2 separate regions of the Homo sapiens genome follow, and region 2 is linked to region 1. A link means that fine-mapping ties the variant in region 1 to the expression of a gene that starts in the linked region. Tissue or cell type: whole blood. Region 1 holds a variant in brackets; the other region holds the start of a gene. All regions are shown on one strand. Distances are between the middles of the regions. Region 1 overlaps MTARC1 (mitochondrial amidoxime reducing component 1). Region 2 holds the start of MTARC1 (mitochondrial amidoxime reducing component 1).

Evidence for each region. PIP is the estimated chance that this variant, and not a neighbour inherited with it, causes the effect.
Region 2: MTARC1 starts here. The variant in region 1 is fine-mapped to the expression of MTARC1 in whole blood (TOPMed, PIP above 0.99).

Annotation. Positions count from the first base shown.
Region 1 is chr1:220,812,218-220,823,797 of GRCh38, forward strand. It overlaps MTARC1 (mitochondrial amidoxime reducing component 1), which reads left to right. Exons shown (of 7, transcript NM_022746.4): 7 at 1,075-7,442. The coding sequence ends at 1,201. Among named protein-coding and RNA genes, the nearest start is that of LINC01352, 11 kb to the right of the region's middle. RefSeq lists enhancers at 500-1,699, 6,312-7,003. The variant C/T (reference allele first, on the strand shown) is at 5,612.
Region 2 is chr1:220,781,473-220,793,052 of GRCh38, forward strand. MTARC1 (mitochondrial amidoxime reducing component 1) reads left to right here and starts at 5,441. Exons shown (of 7, transcript NM_022746.4): 1 at 5,441-5,747; 2 at 10,019-10,192. The coding sequence starts at 5,473. MTARC2 (mitochondrial amidoxime reducing component 2) reads left to right here. Exons shown (of 8, transcript NM_017898.5): 7 at 306-460; 8 at 2,447-3,343. The coding sequence ends at 429.

The sequences.
Region 1 (11,580 bases):
AGAGGCACAGGTAAGGAGCAGATGGCAACAGGTCTGAAAAAGCAGGCTGGGGCCAGGTAGAGCCCTACATACCAGGCTGAATAGTTGGAATGTTATTCTTTAGGCACTGGAGAGCCACGGAAGGTTTGTGAGCCTAGGAATGATAAGACCAGAACACAATTAAAACAGTGATATAGTGCAGTGTCAACAATGAATTGAAAACAGGTAGAGAATGAGGAAAAGAGGTTGGTTAAGAAGTTATTATGATAGTCTGAGCATGCTGGAAGCAAGATCGTGACAGTCGGAATGAGGAAAAGCAAGCCAAGTCAAATGATGTTGTACAGGAAGAACCTTGGAACTCGGCAGCTGCGGACAGGCTGTGGGAAGAGAGGACAGTGGTGTAAAGGATGGGCTCCCAGCCCAAGTGACGGCTAGGATGGTGGTTCAGGTGACAGACATGGAGGAGACAGGAGGAAAGATGCCTAGGGCAAAGGAAGATGATAAAGTATGTCTAGACACATTGAGTATCTAATTTTTTTTTTTTTTGAGACGGAGTCTTGCTCCATTGCCCAGGCTGGAGCGCAGTGGCACAATCTCCGCTCACTGCAAGCTCCGCCTCCCAAGTTGATGCCATTCTCCCACCTCAGCCTCCCGAGTAGCTGGGACTACAGGCACCTGCCACCACTCCTGGCTAATTTTTTGTATTTTTAGTAGAGATGAGGTTTCACCGTGTTAGTCAGGATGGTCTTGATCTCCATCCTGGTTGTGATCTGCCAGCCTCGGCCTCCCAAAGTGCTGGGATTACAGGCATGAGCCACCACACCTGGCCAAGTATCTAACGTCTTAATGCCGAAAGGGGGAACATGAAGGTAGAGAAAAGATGTGGGGATGTGGCCATTGCTTATGCTTCTGTCGTTGTTTGCTGGGCAGGCTGTTCACTGCCCCACTCCAGGAGGCGCTGTTCTGTTGAGCTTTGACGGGATGGTGCCCTCTCGAGCTGTGCGTGCGGAGGCCCTGTGTGGGATGGAAGCCACGTGCTGGTTGAGCTCTTGCATCCGCTTGGCTGTGACTCATCATGATCTTTTCCTATTGCAGTTATCGCCAGTGTGACCCTTCAGAACGAAAGTTATATGGAAAATCACCACTCTTTGGGCAGTATTTTGTGCTGGAAAACCCAGGGACCATCAAAGTGGGAGACCCTGTGTACCTGCTGGGCCAGTAATGGGAACCGTATGTCCTGGAATATTAGATGCCTTTTAAAAATGTTCTCAAAAATGACAACACTTGAAGCATGGTGTTTCAGAACTGAGACCTCTACATTTTCTTTAAATTTGTGATTTTCACATTTTTCGTCTTTTGGACTTCTGGTGTCTCAATGCTTCAATGTCCCAGTGCAAAAAGTAAAGAAATATAGTCTCAATAACTTAGTAGGACTTCAGTAAGTCACTTAAATGACAAGACAGGATTCTGAAAACTCCCCGTTTAACTGATTATGGAATAGTTCTTTCTCCTGCTTCTCCGTTTATCTACCAAGAGCGCAGACTTGCATCCTGTCACTACCACTCGTTAGAGAAAGAGAAGAAGAGAAAGAGGAAGAGTGGGTGGGCTGGAAGAATATCCTAGAATGTGTTATTGCCCCTGTTCATGAGGTACGCAATGAAAATTAAATTGCACCCCAAATATGGCTGGAATGCCACTTCCCTTTTCTTCTCAAGCCCCGGGCTAGCTTTTGAAATGGCATAAAGACTGAGGTGACCTTCAGGAAGCACTGCAGATATTAATTTTCCATAGATCTGGATCTGGCCCTGCTGCTTCTCAGACAGCATTGGATTTCCTAAAGGTGCTCAGGAGGATGGTTGTGTAGTCATGGAGGACCCCTGGATCCTTGCCATTCCCCTCAGCTAATGACGGAGTGCTCCTTCTCCAGTTCCGGGTGAAAAAGTTCTGAATTCTGTGGAGGAGAAGAAAAGTGATTCAGTGATTTCAGATAGACTACTGAAAACCTTTAAAGGGGGAAAAGGAAAGCATATGTCAGTTGTTTAAAACCCAATATCTATTTTTTAACTGATTGTATAACTCTAAGATCTGATGAAGTATATTTTTTATTGCCATTTTGTCCTTTGATTATATTGGGAAGTTGACTAAACTTGAAAAATGTTTTTAAAACTGTGAATAAATGGAAGCTACTTTGACTAGTTTCAGATCTTACTAACTTCTTGGCACAAAGTTAGACTGTGAAAGCTGACTGAGGCTGGGCACAGGGGCTCATGCCTGTAATTCCAGCACTTTGGGAGGCCAAGGTGGGAGAATGGCTTGAGCCCAGGAGTTTGAGACCAGCCCAGAAAATATAATGGGATCCTGTCGCTACAAAATGTTTTTAAAATGCACTCGGTGTGGTGGTGTGTGCCTGCAGTCCTGGCTATGGCTACTCGGGAGGATGAGGTAGAAGGATTGGTTGAGCCCAGGAGCGGGAGATTGAGGCTGCAGTGAGTTATGATTGCACCACTACACTCCAGCCTGAGTGATAGAGTGAGACCCTATCTCTAAAAAAGAAACAGGAAAAAAAAAGAAAGCTGACTGAGGTGAATGGGCAAAGCCAGTAATTCTGACACCTGACCACAGCTGGGTCTTCTGCATAATGGACCTCCTCACCCACAGCCTCCCAGGCAAGCACCCATGTTTGAAGGACTATCAAGTCAACATGCTTTTTACCAAAAGCTGCACATTTTTCACTTTGATTTTATAAAAGAGGTCAGTAATCGCTGAAATCTAGCTGAGCCCTGAAGTAAAGTTCTGAGCAAAGAGGTGCATGTGCTTGTTTTATGGTTGGTGAATTATTACAGTTTGTTTTCTGCATGCTTGGCATGAGGTGAATAATTACATCAATTTTCCAGAGAACCTGGGCCATCACCTTCCCCAACAAGTCCAGTTGATGTTGAAACTACAGATAGATTGAGACAAAGCGAAGTGTTCAGCAAGTAGCATTACTAATGGGACCGGGGGACCCGTGGGAGAGTGAGTGTACACAGGATTTAGGAAACCATGTGAATATGGGCTCTCTGGGAATAGCCAATAGGTAGGGAGCAATCAGAAACCCAAGGTTTGGTGGCTCTTCCTAGGTATTTATAATTAGTGGCAAGTGAAAGCCTTAGTCCTGAATTTCTAACCACTTGTAAGAACTAACAGCCACTTCTCTGTGCCCCGTCCGGGCAGTAACCATCATTCTCCATGGACAGGCTCTCGGGGTAGCTAGCTCTGCAGGGCAGCACCCACGTGGAAGGGAGCACCCAGAAACCCTCCTCACTGGGCAGACCTGTCCTTCTGTGCCTCACAGTGTGAGGAAGATTCCTGTTTGAAGAGAGAAGTTCCAGTGACCTCTAGAATCTCAGAGTAGTTGCCAAGCTTTCTGTCAGTGAGATTTAAAGGCCATTTACTTGTGTTTATTTTATATTTAATGAGTTGGTTAATGCCAGAGACAAAGCTGATATCCCATTTATTTTGGATACTGAGCATTTGCACACTATTCCACTTGAAATATAGAATCAGGAATGTAGGCCATCCCAGACTTTCAGATCTTACAACAGCAAATGACAGATGTTTGAGATCAGGCCAAAATATCCACCCTCGGTGGGCATCTCCTCTGTGTGGCAACTTATGCTGCAGCCACAGTGGGGAGTCACAAACTCAGAGCTGGAGGTCTTGAAAAGGACAATGTGGGCCAGGCTCCGGAGGGGCTGCCTAAAGGCTTGCTTTTGTGACTCTCCTGCAGAAAATGTTAGAAACTTCCAACCGAAAGACGAGGGCAGCAACTTATACACACGAAGGCAGAAAGAAATTGGGGAAGGGGAGGCTGTTGGAATTCAGGCCGTTGTCCTATAGGGAGAAATACTCCTCCTCTCCTTCTCCCTTTACTGATAACGGGGCATGGTGAGGAGATGAGCTTGTGAGGGTCTGCCAGTTTGGTAAGAGTGCATGGGGAGGTTGGGTAAATTAGACTAGCCAAATGGGACTTCGGGAAACCATTTATGAGGCTGTCACCAACAGTGATGGCAGGCTGAAATTCCAGGCAAGTGCTCCCAGCATTCCAAGAGTGTATCAAATTAAAGCAACCCATGATGGTGGAGAACAGATACATTAAAGTTCCTTGAAAATGACAGAGTGGCTCTCAGACCAGACCTTGATTGTGGGTATAATCGGAGTGTTGCTACCACACCCTAACACTGCATTTCCCGTGTTTTATTGGTCCATGGAATTCTGAAAGTTTGCCTTTCGGGATGCTTCTAAAAACAATTCCATGGACCAGTAAGTTTGGAAAGTCCTGCGTGCCTCACTTCTCTTCAAAGGCAAAAGGCTCTGGAGAGGCCTTCATGAAGACATCTGTGTTTAATGCTGCCCTTCCCAAAGGTCTGTTTTTGACTGTCTTTTGAGAAATGATCCTCTGATCTCTAGGCAGAATGCCAGTGAGCCAAGGAATCCCAGTTAGCAGGAGGGGTGCACTCATGGGAAGACTGAAGAAGTTAAAAGTTCCCGCCAAGTGAAGGAGACCTATCTTGGGACACTTCCCCTTGTCCTCTCCCTTGCCCCTCTTGCTGGAGTAAAAGGATGGAACTGGGACTTGATAGGTTAAAGGAGGTGTGGAGAAGTGTCTTAGACCAGCTCTCCTGTTGTGGGCCTTAGGGAGAAGCACTCTCTTTCTTCGGGATCATTTTCCAAACATGCATTTTTGGATGGATAGGGTGGATCAGGGTGAGGGAAGGGAAACCAAACTCTCTCTAACCTTGCCCTTACAGCAATACCTGTGATGTAAGTTACAAAACCACCTGTGATGAAAGTGCTCCAGGATGCTTCATGCACCAGGGAGGGGTGCCCTGTTTCTCTTCTGCTAGCTTCTCCTTTCTTTTTTTTTTTTCTTCTTTTTTTTGAGACAGTGTCTCACTCTGTTGCCAGGCTGGAGTGCAGTGGTGAGATCTCAGCTCACTGCAGCCTCTGCCTCCCAGGTTCAAGCAATTCTTCTGCCTCAGCCTCCCGAGTAGCTGGTGTGTCTGGAGTTGGTTCCTTCTGGTGGGTTCTTGGTCTCGCTGACTTCAAGAATGAAGCCACAGACCTTCGCAGTGAGTGTTACAGCTCTTAAAGGTGGCACGGACCCAAAGTGAGCAGTAGCAAGATTTATTGTGGAGAGCGAAAGAACAAAGCTTCGGAAGGGGACCCAAATGGGCTGCTGCTGCTGGCTGGGGTGGCCACCTTTTATTCCCTTATTTGTCCCTGCCCATGTCCTGCTGATTGCTCCATTTTACAGAGTGCTGATTGGTCCATTTTACAGAGTGCTGATTGGTGCATTTACAATCCTTTAGCTAGACACAGAGTGCCGATTGGTGAGTTTTTACAGTGCTGATTGGTGCATTTACAATCCTTTAGCTAGACACAGAACACTGACTGGTGCATTTATAATCCTCTAGCTAGAAAGAAAAGTTCTCCAAGTCCCCACTAGACCCAGGAAGTCCAGCTGGCTTCACCTCTCACTGGGACTACAGGTGCACACCACCACACCCAGCTAATTTTTGTATTTTTAGTAGAGACGGGGTTTCACCATGTTGTTCAGGATGGTCTCGAACTCTTGATCTCGTGATCTGCC[C/T]GCCTCGGCCTCCCAAAGTGCTGGGATTACAGTTGTGAGCCACCACGCCCGGCCCTAGCTTTTCCTTTCTGTTGCAAGTCCTCTCAACTAGTGTTGCCTTCCACCCTACAAAGCAGAATTACCTCAGAAGTCCTATGGCCCTGACTCTATCTATGTCTGCACAAAGCACTACTGTGCTTTGCTGTCTGCAAGAACAGAGATTGTTTGCTTCAACCACTTTCTCTGAATGGATGAATGAGTTATGATGATATCTAAAGTTACCCAATTTCAAGCAAGAGGAAGAATCTGGCTCGGTACCACAGATGTTCTTGGAATTGGGATAGTAAAAAAGTCCCTGAGGCATCCCTTGGTCTGCTCTGACCACACTCTCTTCACAGGAAGAGGCTTGGGCCACAGCTCTGACTATAACTCTGCTCTTCCTCCAAACACAGCTGAGGAATTGGGTGGTGGGGCACCTGCTCCCATGCTCTGTGGCCTGGCTCAGAGAGAAGAGTTGCCTTAATTACATTATTATTCTTCCTGGACAGGCTGTAGGTTGTGTAAAGTAACAAAAAGGACTGAGAAGTGACTTCCCATTCAGCCTCTTCCAAGGCCATTTTTGATAGGCAGGTCAAATTCACTCACATTTGGTTATTTGTTGGCCAGTCTAGTGCATTCACCCTTGCTGGTCCTCAGTCATGCTCCTTTACCTTTACAGAGCATCCTAGACTGCTCTTCCTCTTACCTTCCTTGTGAAACCCACAACCCCTAGTCCCTCCCCTTCCCTGGCATTTGTTATGCCCTCTACCAATCCCTGACCTGGTATTGGTCAGTCTCCAATCCTGGTGGATCCCTGTGGGAACTAAGTTAAGTCTAACTTTTGTCTCCCTCTTTAGAATTTACTGGGAGTACTGTAAATAAACTATTGTTGTTATAATTATTTCTGATTAACATTTTTACACCTAACAAAGTCTCAGAGAGATTGAATTTACTGGGTTGAAGGGAGGAGCACCTTCCACATGACCTGCCCAGCAATTAAAGCCGCTTGTTAGTCCGAGGCCCAGGACGGCCGAGGACAGCTGGAGAGCTCTTCGTTGCAGGCAGCTCTGGTTAACATCAACCGGGAAAGCTCTTTGTAAACACATGAATAATTGATCGTCCAGCGCTCACATAGCTACCGCGGATCTGAGCCCGTATGACTCATTTGCGAGCCATTCCTGTCGTCTGGATGCCATAACATTGGAGGAATGATGATCGTTTCTTGGAGGTTCTTCTGTGGCCAGAGTTGCCAAGACCAAGGCTGTAATGGTTTGTTATGATGACCTTTGTTATTCCATTAGGCTCAATTGCTTTAAAAAATGATGTGTGCATACTTTAGGAACGTTTTTACCCTTTATGTTGACCTGACATCATAGTTTATATTATAAAATGTATTAATGACAGAAGAGTGTTTTCATGTCCCAAGGACAAATTTTAACAACCATAATCTGCCCTCAGTCATCATAAATATAAATGTATTGGTCAAACAGATCTCGTTAATGTGGCCAAGATAAATGCAAGTCTATATTTTAAGGCAGTCGAAGTCCTAGAGAATATATCTGGAGCTTTTGTGGGGCTAAGAGATCTTGTATATATGCTATCAAAAGGCTGAGAAAATTAACATGTTCCCCCCTCTGATTTTGCATTGGACAGATATAAATGTCTTGGGGATGTCAAGTAAGATTGTTCACATAGTTTCTGGACACCATTAATGCCTGATGGGGTGAATCTTAGTTCTTAAAGCTATATTCTGCTCATTATGCTCACAGGGCTTTTGAAAAGAGAACAAAATAAAGATTTCAAGTCTTAGCAATGTGCTGCCCAGCCAACATTTTTCTGAGTTATACTGTGTCTTAAATTTCTAATTATATCATTCTCCCCATTCCCCAATAGCTTGTTTCCTGTGGGACGAGCCCCTTTTCCACAGATGTGGGTCTGACATTTGCATCATTCCAGTTGGCAAGCCACATGTTGGTAGACAGTGTTCTGGGCATGATCTGGAGGACAGGATGAGTGCTTTGTTTTCTCTTTGTTATGCCATACTCAGCAGCTTTGGTCATTATTTGTAGTGTCCACATTAAGCTTCTTAGGGAGAAAACAAATCCTTGTTGAAGAAACATTTTTTAATAGTGCTATTATTTTGAACCATGAAAATGCATTTAAAGCAGTAATGTCTCAAATGCTACTGTCAGAGCAGACTCTTTACAGGAATGAGTTCATTTCCCCCAGATATGGTAAAAAAAAAACAACAAAAAACAAACAAACAAACAAAAATGGTGCCATAATTAGCCTCTCCAAGGATTATGGTCACCTGGCAATGAATGAAGAGCACTTCATTTAAAACCATTTACCCTTTTTCCCTTTGAAGAATCTTCTAAAGCGATTTTCCCTTCTGAATCTGCTGTCGTTTTTGGCAACACCAAGTATTGGGCTTTAGGAATGAGTTTTGCCTGGATAAATTTTCTGGGACTGGGGACTGGATTATTTTCTAAATTTGTGCTGTGATCATCTCCTGTGTTGTTTGAACTTCTTGAGCAATTTAAAAAGTGAGGTACACGCACCCATTTTCATAGCAGCGTTATTTACAATAGTAAAAGAAAAAAAAATGGAAATAGCCCATGTCCACTGACAGATGAATGGATAAACAAAATGTAGCCTATACATACAATGGAATATTATTCAGCCTTGAAAAGGAAAGAAATTCTGACACATGCTATAACATGGATGAACCCTGAGGACATTATGCTAAGTGAAATAAGCCAGTCATATAAGGACAAATACTATATGATTCCATTAATATAAGGTACTTAGAGCAGTCACACTGTTCTAGACATAAAATAGAAACAGAAAGTAGAATGCTAGTTGCCAGTGGATGGGGGAATGGAGAATGAGGAGTAGTTGTTTCATGGGTATAGTGTTTCAGTTTTGCAAGATGAAAAGAATTCCAGAGATTGGTTGCAAAACAAAGTGAACGTGCTTAATACTCCTGAACTGTACACTTAAAAAAAAATGGTTATGGTGGCCAAGGCAAGAGGATCACTTGAGGCCAGGAGTTCAAGACCAGCCTGGGCAACATAGTGAGACCCTATGTCTACAAAAAATGAAAGTATTAGCCAGGCATGGTGGCGCATGCCTTTAGCCCTAGCTACTTGGAAGGTTGAGGTGGGTGGATAGCTTGAGCCAAGGAGTTCACAGTTACAGCGAGCTATGATCACACCACTGCACTCCAGCCTGGGTGGTAGAGTGAGGCCCTGTCTTTAAAAGAATAAAAAAGGAGGTTATGGTGGTACATTTTATGTTACATATATTTTACCACAATTAAAAAATAACTTAAAATGGTACAACACTTCAGAGACTTGGAGTTGCGTTAATCCCAACTCTAAAGTCCCTTCCTGGAAAGGCATCCTAGGCTACTGCTGCTGAAAGAACACCGATCCCACGCAGCCCATTCAGAACTCTTCTTGCTGACACCAAAAAGAATAAGAAATTGCAATGTAATGTTTTTGAACTTGAGAGTGAGATGATTTAACTTCAGATTTTAATTTCTCATTTTGCCTTTTTTGGCCCTTAACTTGGAATTTAATTTTGGACTTCAGACTCCTTGGTAATTTGGTGTTAGAGGGGTTTATGTTCAAATCTAGAGCATCTTATTGTCATTTTATTGTTGAGGTACCTTTGTGATATCACTTGATTTTGCTGCACAGTCTCTGATAGGTTCTGTTGGGCAGTGTGATGTCTGGACATAATTTGAGATGGAAAATAGAAAAGGATCGACAATTTTTATCTTGACTACAGAAAGGCCTTGAAGAACACAATGTACTGTACTGGCCCATCTCAGAACCTTATGGGGCAAAAACACACAGTACCTTTCTAGAAAGATCTACATGGAAGTGACACTGGAGATGGGGGTAGGAGTTTATTCCCTCTCTGAAGATGCTATCCCTATAATATATATACCTATATATGACTGGGTATAATGTGTAAGCACAATGGGCTCAAAGAACAAAAAATTGAGGAATTTGGGGATACAGATAACTTAGCTACAATAAATGTGTTATAATCACACTCATCCCTCGTATGTCCAAATGAAGAGACATTCCTTAGTCTTGGCCCCTCTCTGCCTCCTCACACTCTCTTGTTTGGGGGAGATCTGATTGGTAAATTTGGAAGCAGTGAGTTTGAGCTCTGCTCTTTCTCCTTCTCTTTTCTACTTGGGCTCTTGCTGCCTTCAAGGTGCTAGGACCCTGGTCCCTTTGGTCCAAGTGGTGATTTTGGCAGAAAAGACCCTTCCCTAGTTGGGAGATACCTGTAGTTCTCCAGTTTTGTGCAAGGCTGGGGAGATAAATTCAATATTGGGATTCAGTATTATTGATAAAACCTAGGCTGGAGGATGTAGTTTAGGAATACAAAAGCAATGGAATTTCTATCAGAAAAAAAGCAGATATTTTGATCTCAAAACAAAACAAAACAAAACTAAAACCTGCAAACAAAACCCAGTGTACCTTGCATTTGTAAAGTGCCATGAAACCTGCAGTGCACCTTCATCCACTCTATATGATTAGATCTTGCTGATGACCCAGTGAGGTAGGATAGATGTGAAAGTCTTTTGTAAGCTGCTTACGTATCATCATTCTTCTTCTGAATGCATAACGCATGTCACTGAGCTTTGGGGAGGTTAACTAACTTGTCCACATTATAGGTGATGGGCTAGAGTTAGAACTCAAGGCTTGTGCCTTCTGGCAATGCTACAAAATAAGTTGGCAAGAATGAATTCAAAGTGTGGTAGTACCTTCATCCGGAAACTGGTTTGATCCTACAATCTTGTTTTAAAACAATTGCTTATGACTTACTGAAAGGACCTTTAAGACTGGTGTGTGTATTTGTATCACCTGTGAACCATGGGTAGATTCCTGTGTCAGATTCTCAGATATCCTGATTTAGTAGTTCTGCAATGGAACCTAGAAATTCTCATTTTTATAAAGACTCCAAGCTCTTCAAAACTTTTACTTGATTTTCTGTAGACCAAGTTTCCATCACTCCTACTCACCCCACATTAATGTTGACATTCTTCTTAGTGGTATGTAAAGAAATACTGGAGGAACAAATTCTGGCTTTCTGAGAAAAATGGAACCCATTAGACTACTTCATGGTTAAGCATGGATGTGCTCATTTTGAGTGATGGGGTCACACTGATCCAAACACACCTCCCCCAGCCCTCAGGGGACCACAGCCCCACTTTTGGATGCAGCAGAGGATCGTGTATGCCCTGAAAGGGAGTGAAGCTCTGAAGGCACCAAACCCACAACCTGAGCCTCCACGCAACAAAGTCAATGACCACATCATTAACGAATCCTGAATTTGTCAGCCAAGCAGAGGCAATGCTTGGGGCTTAACGATTGTCCACATATCATGTAACAAATGACCGTGTGTGCATGCATGTGTGGGGGAGTAAATGAGAAAGCATGTTTTGTAAGAAAATTTAATTTCCTTATAACAACCAACCAGTTTCTTTTAGTGAATCAACAGATAAGGGGGTCCCAAATACAGCATTAACGATTTTAAAAGCATGAGTGCCAATGGTATTTTCTTTCTTTTTCTTTCTCTTTCTTTCTTTTTCTCTTTCTCTCTCTCTGTCTCTCTCTCTTTCTTCTTTCTTTCTCTCTTCCTCTCTTCCTTTCCTTTCTTTCTTTTTAAAGAAAGGCAAGGTAAAGATTGGGAATGTTGATGAACGATGGCCCCATTCTCTAAGAGCTCAGTGAGAGTCTGTGTCAACTTGTTTTCCTCTCTTCCTCCCTCCTAGCCAAGCTTCAGAGGAAACTCTTTTCATGTGAAATGTAAGGGATGAATTTCAAGCTCCACTGAGAGCTTTAAAACCTTAAATTCTTGAAATAACCTGCCTCTCAGGAATCATAGGTCCCAAAGAATTGTAAAGCTTTCCCTTAAGCTGTGGA
Region 2 (11,580 bases), 31 kb before region 1:
AATGAGTTGTGAAGTTGAAGGTACCCATATAGACAAAGTATTTATTTTATACTTACACATAAGTTTTTTTCTTTTTGGACTTAAACTGAAGCCATGGAGAAATTGCGTAGACTTTCAGGATACTTCTAGAAAAACTAGAATTATTTGCAGTTTGACTAATTGTCCACAGACTTCTCTCGCAACATTTTAGAAAATTCTTGCTGTGTATTTATAAATAACTTGGAAGGCAAACTTGAGTTCTATTGAGAATACTTCGATTATTATTTCCTTTTTGTGTCTGATGATTGAATTTTTGCTTGTTTCAGCTACCGCCTGTGTGATCCTTCTGAGAGGGAATTGTACAAGTTGTCTCCACTTTTTGGGATCTATTATTCAGTGGAAAAAATTGGAAGCCTGAGAGTTGGTGACCCTGTGTATCGGATGGTGTAGTGATGAGTGATGGATCCACTAGGGTGATATGGTAAAGGGTCAGCTTTGCTTCTGAATACGCTGTCTTGAAGCCATTGCTGCATTTTCTTGTGTTAATTTTTTTTATGTTATGCTGCTTTAATTCTTGAGAGAATGAACAGTTTTATATTCTGATCTTTGGAGTTGGAAAATGCCCTTAATTTCTGTTCCCTGCAGTAATTTGTGTACTCCTACCTCAGCCTTCTCCACCCCTATTTCCCATTTAATGGTAAAATGCTGATGGAAGAGGCTCAGCAGAAAGACAGGTATATGTTCACAGCTCATTACAGAATATCATTAAGGAATAGGGAAATGAAGGTGATTGATTCTCAGAGTTATGTACATTCTCAGAGTTATGTATTTATTTTTTCTGTCTCAGATAGAAGGGAAAATGTTTAAATTATTCAACATCAGCTTGGGAAATGTTTAAATTGAATGTCTTTTATCAAATGTATTTTTAAAGTATAATTGAAGTTTGAAAAAAAATCAGTGCATCATGGTGACTGGGTCCTGAATCATGAGTTAGAAAATAATGTTCTCACATTGATTTCATTGTGTCCAATACAGCCCTCACTCCTGGAGGCAAAAGCCTAACTCCCAAATTAAAGGAATGAGAAAGTTGGACAGAGGACCTCAAATTGGAGATTTTAAGCAAGTTTTCTCATAAAATCCATGACCCAGTTCTTTAAGTTACCTCATCTCCAAAACTCTTGACCATCCTTCTCTCTGATTCTGGCCTGAGCTTCTCACGTGTGTTACTTGCCTTTGTAGTCTTGACACCCACAACCTGACCCTCCTTAAGGACAGTGTAACACAGTGGCTTAGAAGGTGTAGATCTAGCATTAGATAGACTTGGGTTTGTAATCCAAGCATCTTCCTAACTTGGTTGAGATGTTTAACTTCTCTTTAAGTCTCAGTACCCTTATCTGCAAAGTGGGAATAATAGTACTTACCAAAACAAGCAATAAAAGTTATCTTGAGTATTAATTCATATAAAGTTGCGCTGCAACACAAATAAAGTGCTCAGTAAATATCAGTTATGTTTTTTATTGCCATCATTCCATCATGATCCAGTCTTAGGTTCCATAGTGGGTATAAAGATGACACAGGCTTTGCCTTTGAGGTGGGCAAAAAGGAGCTACACTTCTATTGATGACTGTTATGACTAGGTATTTGCATAACCATAACCATATTTCATAACATATTTCATCCGTTCTGAGATCCTATTCTAACATCTCTGATATCAGTCAGCTTCTTATAACATTCAGGATGCCTTTTGAAAAATATCAGTGATGCATAAAATTATCAGTGATGCATATAATAATGGTGCATCTTACAATTGGTATATCTTGGATTTGATGAAATACAATAAGTATTAATACTAGAGGGGAAACTGTGAAGCTCCTAAGTACCTGGCATTTCTAAAAGCCCCATTTGGGGAGAGTGGACCCAAGCCTGAGCCATCTAGCTTGAGTGAAACTGATCCTGTGTCCTGCTGTTCCAGTCATGATTGACTGGACCTGGATCATTGTGTGAGCCAAGGGCTTTCATGTGTTCTCTGCATCTGAGGGAGCCCAATGGCTGTGAGATACCATAACGATTGAGGGTTTTCCATATCACTCCGTCACAAACTCATCCAATCAGATCCTGTTTTGCAGTGGATGGAGGCAACAAACATCTGTGGTTCACTCAGCCTCAATTTCCAATTGTCTCTGCTGCCCAGAAGGCCTTGTGTAATCTTTATCTGTGAGAGGATCTCTGTGAGATAGATATGATAACAGGCACTTTATGGATGAGAAACAAAGGCTTAGATAGGTCAGCTGACGTAGGGCCTGGGAGCTGATGTGAGTTAGAGCTAATGGGCCATGCTTTCTGCACAGCACTGCACCATACATTTATATGTGTAACCTCAATAAGTGACTGTTTTGTGGGAGTTTGAATTATTTATGAACAGTAGGATAAACAACCAAATAACCAGAGATTCTTATTATTTATTCAGGCTTCAGCAACCAGGAGGGATTGACTGAGATCTTAACAACAGCAGCAACGATACATCAGCAAATCCTTATTATCCAGCCTTCAACTATCTTTACCCTGGAAAACAATCTCGATTTTTGACTTTTCAAAGTTGTGTATGCTCCAGGTTAATGCAAGGAAAGTATTAGAGGGGGGAATATGAAAGTATATATATAAATTTTAGGTACTGAAGGCTTTAAAAATAATTAAGATCATCAAAAATGCTATTTTGAATGTTATCATGGCTATTACACTTTTACTTCCTGACTTTAATATTGATGAATAAAGCAAGTTTAATGAATCAACTAAAAAGCTGCAAAAATGTTTTTAAAATGTGTGCCTTTTATTACCTATCAGTCTATGTTTTGGGAGAAATGGGAAGCAACAGATCACTGTGTCCTGATGTGCAGGACGCATGTTACCACACTCACAAATGCCTAATATTGGTCTTTATGTGGCCATTGAGTCCTGTTGACTTTCCACTCATGTGCTTTTTACTCTAGCATTATGGAATCTGGGCTGTACTTGAGTATGGAAATTCTCTTATAGACTTAGTTTTAGTACTCTATTACACCTTTACTAAGCCACATAAAAGTAATCTGTTTGTGTGTAACTGCCAGATATACCACCTGGAATTCCAAGTAAGATAAGGAAGAGGATGACATTTAAAAGAGAATGGAATTTTGAGAGTAGGAATGCAAGGAAGACAGCATGAACATATTTTTTTCAGTGCAAATAATTTTTTCGTAACAAAGAAACGAACAACTTTGGTATGATCTTAAGCAAAAATACTCACTGAAATAGTATGTGGATGAATTCACCTACTTACAATTTTATGGTTTCTTTGTAAATAATAAATGTGAATCTCAATCCTGCTTTATCTTTGGTATTTATGAGTCTTCTTCCTGGGTTTTTCTCTTTATATTAGAATTTGAGTCACTGCAATTTATTTTTCCTTACCCTTTCTGATTGCCTCCAGAGATACAATCTGACTCCACAAACACTGGCTTCTGTCATTGGCAGGGGGCGAGGGCGTTGTGAGCTGCAGGCACACAGGTGGCCTGTCTGTGGCAGGATGGCCAGTGTCCGCAAGGGGCCTTCCTAGTGGTCAGTGAGGAGTGGCTGTTCCCTCCTCCTCCATTTTCCTTTGCTGGGTTCTGGGACTGAAATTCACCACCATTCCCCGCACCCTGTGAGGTAAAAGTGGTAAGTGAGCTGTAGGCCTGGGTAAATTCTGGAAGTGATGAAATTGAAAAATCAGAACTTCAAAGTCAGCCATTAAAATAGGGAAGCCATTTTTTCCTCTTAAATTTTCAAAGAGGAATTCAGGAGGGAGATAAACAGAAACGCACATTTGGTGCCCCGGAACTGCCTTTCCGAGGAGGATCAAGTCGTGCCTCCTGCTGAGCTGTGTCCTTTACAGACAAGGTGTGACCTGGGGTTGGAAGAGAAGAGAATAGAGCAGAAAAACAGGACAGATAAGTGTTCAGGCCAATAAAGACAGAGCCTCCCTGAGCACTGAACTGCTCTGCAGTGAGTTGCCAGCTGGAGGAAGAGTGTTGTTCTTTTCTCTTGGCGAACTCCCGCTTCTCATCCATGCACCCTTGCCCTGCATGGGCAATTCTGGCTGAGTCTTGCAATGTACACTCCTGGCTCAGGGGACCATGGCTGAGCTGGGGATAACACAGACTCTCCTTGACCAAACTTCGGACTCTCCTGTGCCCTTTTCTTCATGAGGCCTTGACCTTGCCACCCTACTCCCTGCAGAGCCCAGTTTAGCAAGAATCCTGCTTAGTCAGTTTCCAGAGTATTCTCCCATCCTTAATATCTGATCACCCTTGATGTCTGCTCAGATTCCTCATATGTCACCCTCAGTGTGTAAGTCCTTGCCTTGTTCAGTAGAATCCTGTTAAGTGGGTTTATCAAGAATCCTCTACACTTGATGTCTCCGCTTAGTGATTTTCCATTCACTGACCCCGAGGAACTTCGCTCCTTGGCTATGAATCCTGAGCTGTCTTTGCTGTAATACAGAGTTGAGCCTAATCTCTTTCCCCTATTGTGATGCCCCTGTTACAGTAGCCTTGAATAGTCTTCCTTACCTTTTTAACAAGCGTCTGAGGGAATTTTTTTCCTTTAATAGCTTGGTACATCAAGCAGGAGCCTGACTCCTAAACCACGCTGTTCGGGGTATGCTAACATTGTTGTCTGGAATATAACCTGATTTGGAAGTGACAAGTGACTGAGGTGAGTGCCTGCAGGACCAAGTGACTTTCCCTCCCGCCGGAAGCAGCCCGGGGACCTTGTGCAGCGTTAAACTGAGCCAAGGCCCTTGCCAATGCAGCTCCAGCTCGAGGCTCCCCGCCGGTAGGAGTCGAGCGTCCCCGAGCCGTGTAGAAGGCACTCTCAGACGCCCATTGCCGCTCCCAGGGGCCGCCGGGAGAACTCTGGCCTTGGCTCGCCGGCGCGGAGGGCCTGGTAGCATCCTCCTTCATCAGACCCCCACTCTCTGGAAGCTCCTAGCCCCTGGGCAGACTGAGGGGAGGGCGGCGGCAGCAGAGAGCTGGACACTGCACAGGCCAGGCAGGGCCTACCAGCTCTCCACTATTCCCAGGAGAGGCTGCTGCCAGCTGTCTGATTTCTAATTTCAAAATCACGCTTTGTCCTGCAAATGTTGTATATTGTTTATTTTAGGTCAAATAACCCCATAAATACGTAAGTAAATAAATTGGTCACTTGCAGCGATCGTGGGGTGGGGGAGGGCACAGCGCCCTGCAGCGCAGGCGACGGAAGGTTGCAGAGGCAGTGGGGCGCCGACCAAGTGGAAGCTGAGCCACCACCTCCCACTCCCCGCGCCGCCCCCCAGAAGGACGCACTGCTCTGATTGGCCCGGAAGGGTTCAGGAGCTGCCCAGCCTTTGGGCTCGGGGCCAAAGGCCGCACCTTCCCCCAGCGGCCCCGGGCGACCAGCGCGCTCCGGCCTTGCCGCCGCCACCTCGCGGAGAAGCCAGCCATGGGCGCCGCCGGCTCCTCCGCGCTGGCGCGCTTTGTCCTCCTCGCGCAATCCCGGCCCGGGTGGCTCGGGGTTGCCGCGCTGGGCCTGACCGCGGTGGCGCTGGGGGCTGTCGCCTGGCGCCGCGCATGGCCCACGCGGCGCCGGCGGCTGCTGCAGCAGGTGGGCACAGTGGCGCAGCTCTGGATCTACCCTGTGAAATCCTGCAAGGGGGTGCCGGTGAGCGAGGCGGAGTGCACGGCCATGGGGCTGCGCAGCGGCAACCTGCGGGACAGGTACGGCCAAGCGCCGGCGCGGGGCAGCGCTGATCCGGCTCGGGGCAAGGGGGTGAGAAGGGAGGAGCGCAGGGGAGGTCTGCAGAGTCTGCTAACAGGTCCTTCCTCCTATTACAAAGAAACTGGGAGTTGGGTGAGACAAGGCCAAAGAGAAAAAGGAACCCTCACCCCCCAGCATCAGACCCCAGGGCTCTGGGACTCTGAGCGCGTGGACCCGTTTTCCCGGGGTGGGCGGATCTCCACCTCCCACTGGCTCTTTGGCGTCATGTGCTCCTGCTGAGGTGTGGTATCGCTCCCAGGTGTCTGCCAGTGAGCAAACTTCTTAATCTCCATTTAGTGGAGGCGGCTAGCTTGAAGAGGTTGGTTCCCAGTCGCTATTTTGAGTGACTTTCTTGAGATCTTGGAGAAAGCTGAACTGTAGAGTCCAGCCCTCCAAGAGCGCACCAAGGCGGAGCTCATAATAGTAATGACAGCAGTTCAACGAATACCTTCGGGCGCGGTGGCTCACGCTTGTAATCCCAGCACTTTGGGAGGCCGAGGCGGGTGCATTACCTGAGGTCAGGAGTTCGAGACCAGCCTGACCAACATGGTGAAACCGCGTCTCTACTAAAAACAAACAAACAAACAAAAAAACAAAAATTAGCCGGGCGTAGTGGCGCGCACCTGTAATCCCAGCTACTCAGGAGGCTGAGGCAGGAGAATAGCTTGAACCCGGGAGGTGGAAGTTGCAGTGAGCCAGGATTGCGCCACTGCACTCCAGCCTGGGCAACAGAGCGAGACTCCGAATCAAAAAAAGAAAGAAAGAAAGAAAGAGTTGTGGGGGCATTGCAGATGCTATTTTCCCCAATTCTCTCCAATGCTCTCAAGCACTCTTGTGGATAAAGAAGTTGAATTCAGAGCCACACAGCAGCAGAACCAGGACTCTTATTTTCTTTAGCACACTGGGGCTTTGTAAAGAGTGACTTTGTTAATGTCCTGTCTGGGTTCTGAGAGCTGCGTGGATTCCTGGGGTTCAGCGAAGGCTGCAAAACCCGGGAGCCGGCAGCTTTGTCCTCTTTAGGGTCTGGCTTCAGGCCAGCCTCGGGTCTTATTGTGAGGCTGCACTTGAAACTCCTTTCCAGAGCAGCCCTCGCAGTTCAGCAAGTAACACAGGACTAATGGGAGCTGTAACCTTTCTCCTACCAGCTCCCCAGACAGAGGGCAATTCATGACATAGTTGAAAGGTGAGTGACGTATGCATCTTTGCTTCAGGAAGGAAGCCAAGAATCCTAAATATTCCATGTTTTGGGCCAGGCGCGGTGGCTCACTTCTGTAATCCCAGCACTTTGGGAGGCCGAGGCGGGTGGATCACAAGGTCAGGAGATTGAGACCATCCTGGCTAACAGGGTGAAACCCCTTCTCTACTAAAAAATACAAAAAATTAGCCGGGCTTGGTGGTGGGCGCCTGTAGTCCCAGCTACTCGGGAGACTGAGGCAGGAGAATGGCGTGAACCCGGGAGGCGGAGCTTGCAGAGCTCCACTGTGGCAGAGATCTCGCCACTGCACTCCAGTCTGAGCGACAGAGTGAGACTAAGTCTCAAAAAAAAAAAAAATCCATGTTTCGTATAGTAGGCTCTGAAAAGTGGTAGAGTTTTTGTAGGCCCCAGAGGCAAAGGGCACTGGAATTTTACTACTTAGATTCAAAAAGCAGTTTTTGAGCTCATATTACAATAGATGACAAGAAGAGCTGGCCTTTGTACCAGACACTATGATAAATTCTTTATTTTCGTTCATCACACACTCCCAGAAAGTGTGATCAAAAGAAGCCAACACTGGCTTACAGTCCTAGGTTGTGACTAGACTAAACAGAGGTTGTGACACGTGCCAGGGTGCCAGCATAGAGGATGCGACACGTGCCAGGGTGCCAGCATAGAGGATGCAGTGCTGGAAGCTGGCTGGGGCCGTCAGGGACAACATCAGAGAGAAAGTAACAGCTTGAGCTGAAAACTGGAAAACGATTCAGAACTTGCTGGGCAAGTAAATTGGGAGAAGAACTTTCTAGAGAGGGAATAAGCTGGGCAAAGACACTCGGCTTGTGAGGATGGGGTATGCTAGGGGAAAGGCTGGCATAGTCAATGCCAGAGGGGTCCAATCTTTTGGCTTCCCTGGGCCACATTGGAAGAAGAATTGTCTTGGGCCACACATAAAATACACTAACACTAACAACAGCTGATGAGCAAAAACAAAAACAAAAACAAAAAAAATCTCATAATGTTTTAAGAAAGTTTATGAATTTGTGTTGGGCCTCATTCAAAGCTGTCCTGGGCCACGGGTTGGACAAGCTTACTCTAAGGTATTTACCAAAAGGAACTGGGACATAAATAGGATGAATGTTCTTTGCAGCATTGAGTGTTGAATGTTCATTATGATGTTATTCACAGTAGCCAAAAGGTGGAAACAACTAAGTGTCCATTGATGGATGAGTAGATAAGCAAAATGTGGTATATACACACAATGGAATATTATTCAGCCATGAAAAGGAATGAAGTTCTGATATGTGCTACAACATGGATGGCCCTGGAAAACATAATACTAATTGAAATAAGCTAGACACAAAAGGACAAATATTGCATAATTCCAATTATATGAAATGTCTAGTGGATAAATTTATAGAGACAAAGTGGATTAGATGTTACTGGGGGCTGGGGGAAGGGGAAAACGAGGAGTTATTGCTTAATTGGTACAGAGTTTCTGTTTGGGGTGATGAAAAGGTTTTGCAAATAGTGGTGATGGTTGCACAACACTGTGAATGTACTTTACTGCCACTGAATTGCACACTTCAAAATGGTTAAAATCACATTTAAAAAATTCCATTCTCTGTTGATGGACACTCGGGCTGTTACTACTTTTTCAGCATTTTGATTAAAGCTGCAATAAACATTGATACACAAATGTCTGTTTGAGTTCCTGTTTTCAGTTCTTTGGGGTCTATACGTAGGAGTGTGCTAGGTATTTTATGTTTTATATATATTTTACTGCAATTAAAAAATAAATATATAAAAGACTGGCCTGTGTGAAGACCTCGGGAGGTAAGAATGGCTGGAGCAACAGCTGGATCATGAAGGGCTGGGCACGCCCTTGTTTAGGAGTTGGTTTTATCCTGAAAGCAGGAACCATGGAGGGATTTTGAATGAGGGGGTCATAAAGTTAGATTTGCATTTTAGAGCGATGTAAACTGCCATTACCAGGAAGAATATTAGACAGAATATTCACCTGCTAGTCCCAAGGATTTGGGTCAGGGCAGGCCTCTGTCTGTGCAGAAACAAAGTCTGGTAAAAGGGCAGTTACGGAAAGGGCTTATACTAAGCATATTTTTCTAGTGTAGCTGAACAACTCAACCATGATAACCTGCTGGAAGTGATGCAAGAAATATCTTGAACGACCTAAAGTACCGGCCATATTTTTTTCTTATGTCTGGAAATCTCAAAAGCACATGCTCACTTCTATAATTGTAATCATTTGATCAGTGTGTACTGTAAGGATTGAAATGCCAATATGTTTTGCTTCCTTGGTAGCTGAGAGATAACCTGCAAAAACATGTTGTTCTTGTTCTGGAAATGGCTCTTTCTATTACCTTTATTTCTCCATTTATCTTTTTTTCTAGGAAGTACCTGTAGACCAGGAATACTGGGCCAGAAGAAAAAAATACTGTCTAGTTTAGCAAATTGCAGAATGGACAGCACTGAATGTTGGAACATAAAATTTTTAAAAGGTGGGGGGCTGGAACTGGCAGAGTATAAGTGGCACTGTGTGTTGCTCAGCTGAACTCCATGCCCTGTGAACAATATAAGCAACAGTCCTGCTATTTCCACTGACAAGAGCCCGTTGCCTACCAGATGCCAGGCCCTGTGCTTCCTCCTGCCTTTGAGGTCTTCATGTAAAATAGATTCTTGTCATCTGCTTGGGGCATGTTTAATGAAAGTGATCAGGCTTTCTAGAGATTGAGATGAAAATATAATTAACATCTTTGATTTCTGTGCCATCAAAGAGCTCAAACTGTTCTCCAGATATATGTTGGATGCTTGAGTGGTTATGAAATCCTTTGAAATTAAGTGACAGACTCAGTCCTGTGTGCTGATGTTTAGGACAGACAGACACACACACTCAAACTCACACACACCAGGCTTATGGGGAAGAAATCAAAGATGACAACAGTGTCTAATTGAAGCTCCTCCAGGGTCTGGCTTCCTGCCATAATGGTTCACACATATCCTGTGTTTTGAAAACGGCAGGTTTTGGCTTGTGATCAACCAGGAGGGAAACATGGTTACTGCTCGCCAGGAACCTCGCCTGGTCCTGATTTCCCTGACCTGCGATGGTGACACCCTGACTCTCAGTGCAGCCTACACAAAGGACCTACTACTGCCTATCAAAACGCCCACCACAAATGCAGTGCACAAGTGCAGGTAAGGAAAGGGCAGGTCGTAGCCCTTGTGTGAATGAATAGTCATGCAATTTTGAGAAAGCATAAACTCTAGAGGGAATGCTGAGAAACATATCAATAATGAACCGTTGATTGCATGTGTACCATATACAGAATGAAGTCCTCAACATTATGAAGATCTAAAAGAAGGAGAAAGAAGGAAGCAGCTTCAGAAACTTGTGTTGTGGAGATGACAGACATGAAAGTGCTATGTAGAAACCCATGAGAACAAAAGCATATTGACATGTCAGCAAGAGAAAAATAACAGCACCCAAAGATCAAGCACAAAAATGGGGTGGGAGTGGTGGGGGCGAGTGTCCTAGCAGAGGTGAAACTCGATCTACGTATTCTCATAGAACTTTTTCTTCTTGGCTTAGAAAAACTGGGCACCTTCCAAGTCTGAGTTAGGAAAGGAGTTGCAAATGGCTATGTGACCCGTAAGATTTAGTTCTAATGAAAGGAAGTTCCAAAATAGAAAAGAACAACTCTAGCTAGAAGAGTGATCCAGCCAGCGGCTGCCCAGGGGTCAGTGTCAGAATGAGGCTGGGGATGTAACCCAGGAGGATGTTCTGTACACAAGCCCTTCCCTCAACATCAGAAGGGCTGCAATGAAGCAATTCTTCTAGGAAAACTAGTTTTGCCTCCAAGAAGTCATGTCTAGAGTTGATTTCTTATCTGATTATGGGAAAATTAGAGTTGGTCCAGTTATATTCTTGTTATAGTTTCTGCATTTGGAATAAAGATGCAGTGTGAATGTAGTTTATAGCCTATCATAAAAAAATAGCATCACCTCAAAAAATGTAGTTATCTGAACAACGTCTAAAGACCCAGAAAAGTTCACAAAATGCAATACTGATGTAATTTCTACATTTTAGAGTTTTAAACTTGATAATATACTTTTTTGAATTTGGTGGCTTTTCAGATTAGAAAAGTGGTACATATTCATTGTTGAAAATTTGGGAAATACCAAGAAAAAAAAAAAAAAGAAACAAAAACTATCTGTGATAACTAATTAATATTGCAGCATATTTTCTTTCGGTCTCTATGCCTACTACTTAAAAACTAAACTGAAATAATACAAAAAATCCTTTAATATTGTTTATATACTTAAATTGATATGTTGAGTATTTTTTCATATTGTTAAAAAATCTTTAAGGATACCATTTTTCATGTTGGCATAATATTTCATTTTGTGGGTGTCCTCTAATGCATTTTAATATGCCCCATGATTAAACATTTTGATTGTCTTAATTTTTTTCCAGGTATTAAGAAGAATGTGATGAATATCTTGGCATAAATCTTTGTTTATATCATTTGTTGTTTTCTTAGGGAAAAAATTCTAGCAGTGGTTTTGCTTGAAATAAGAATATG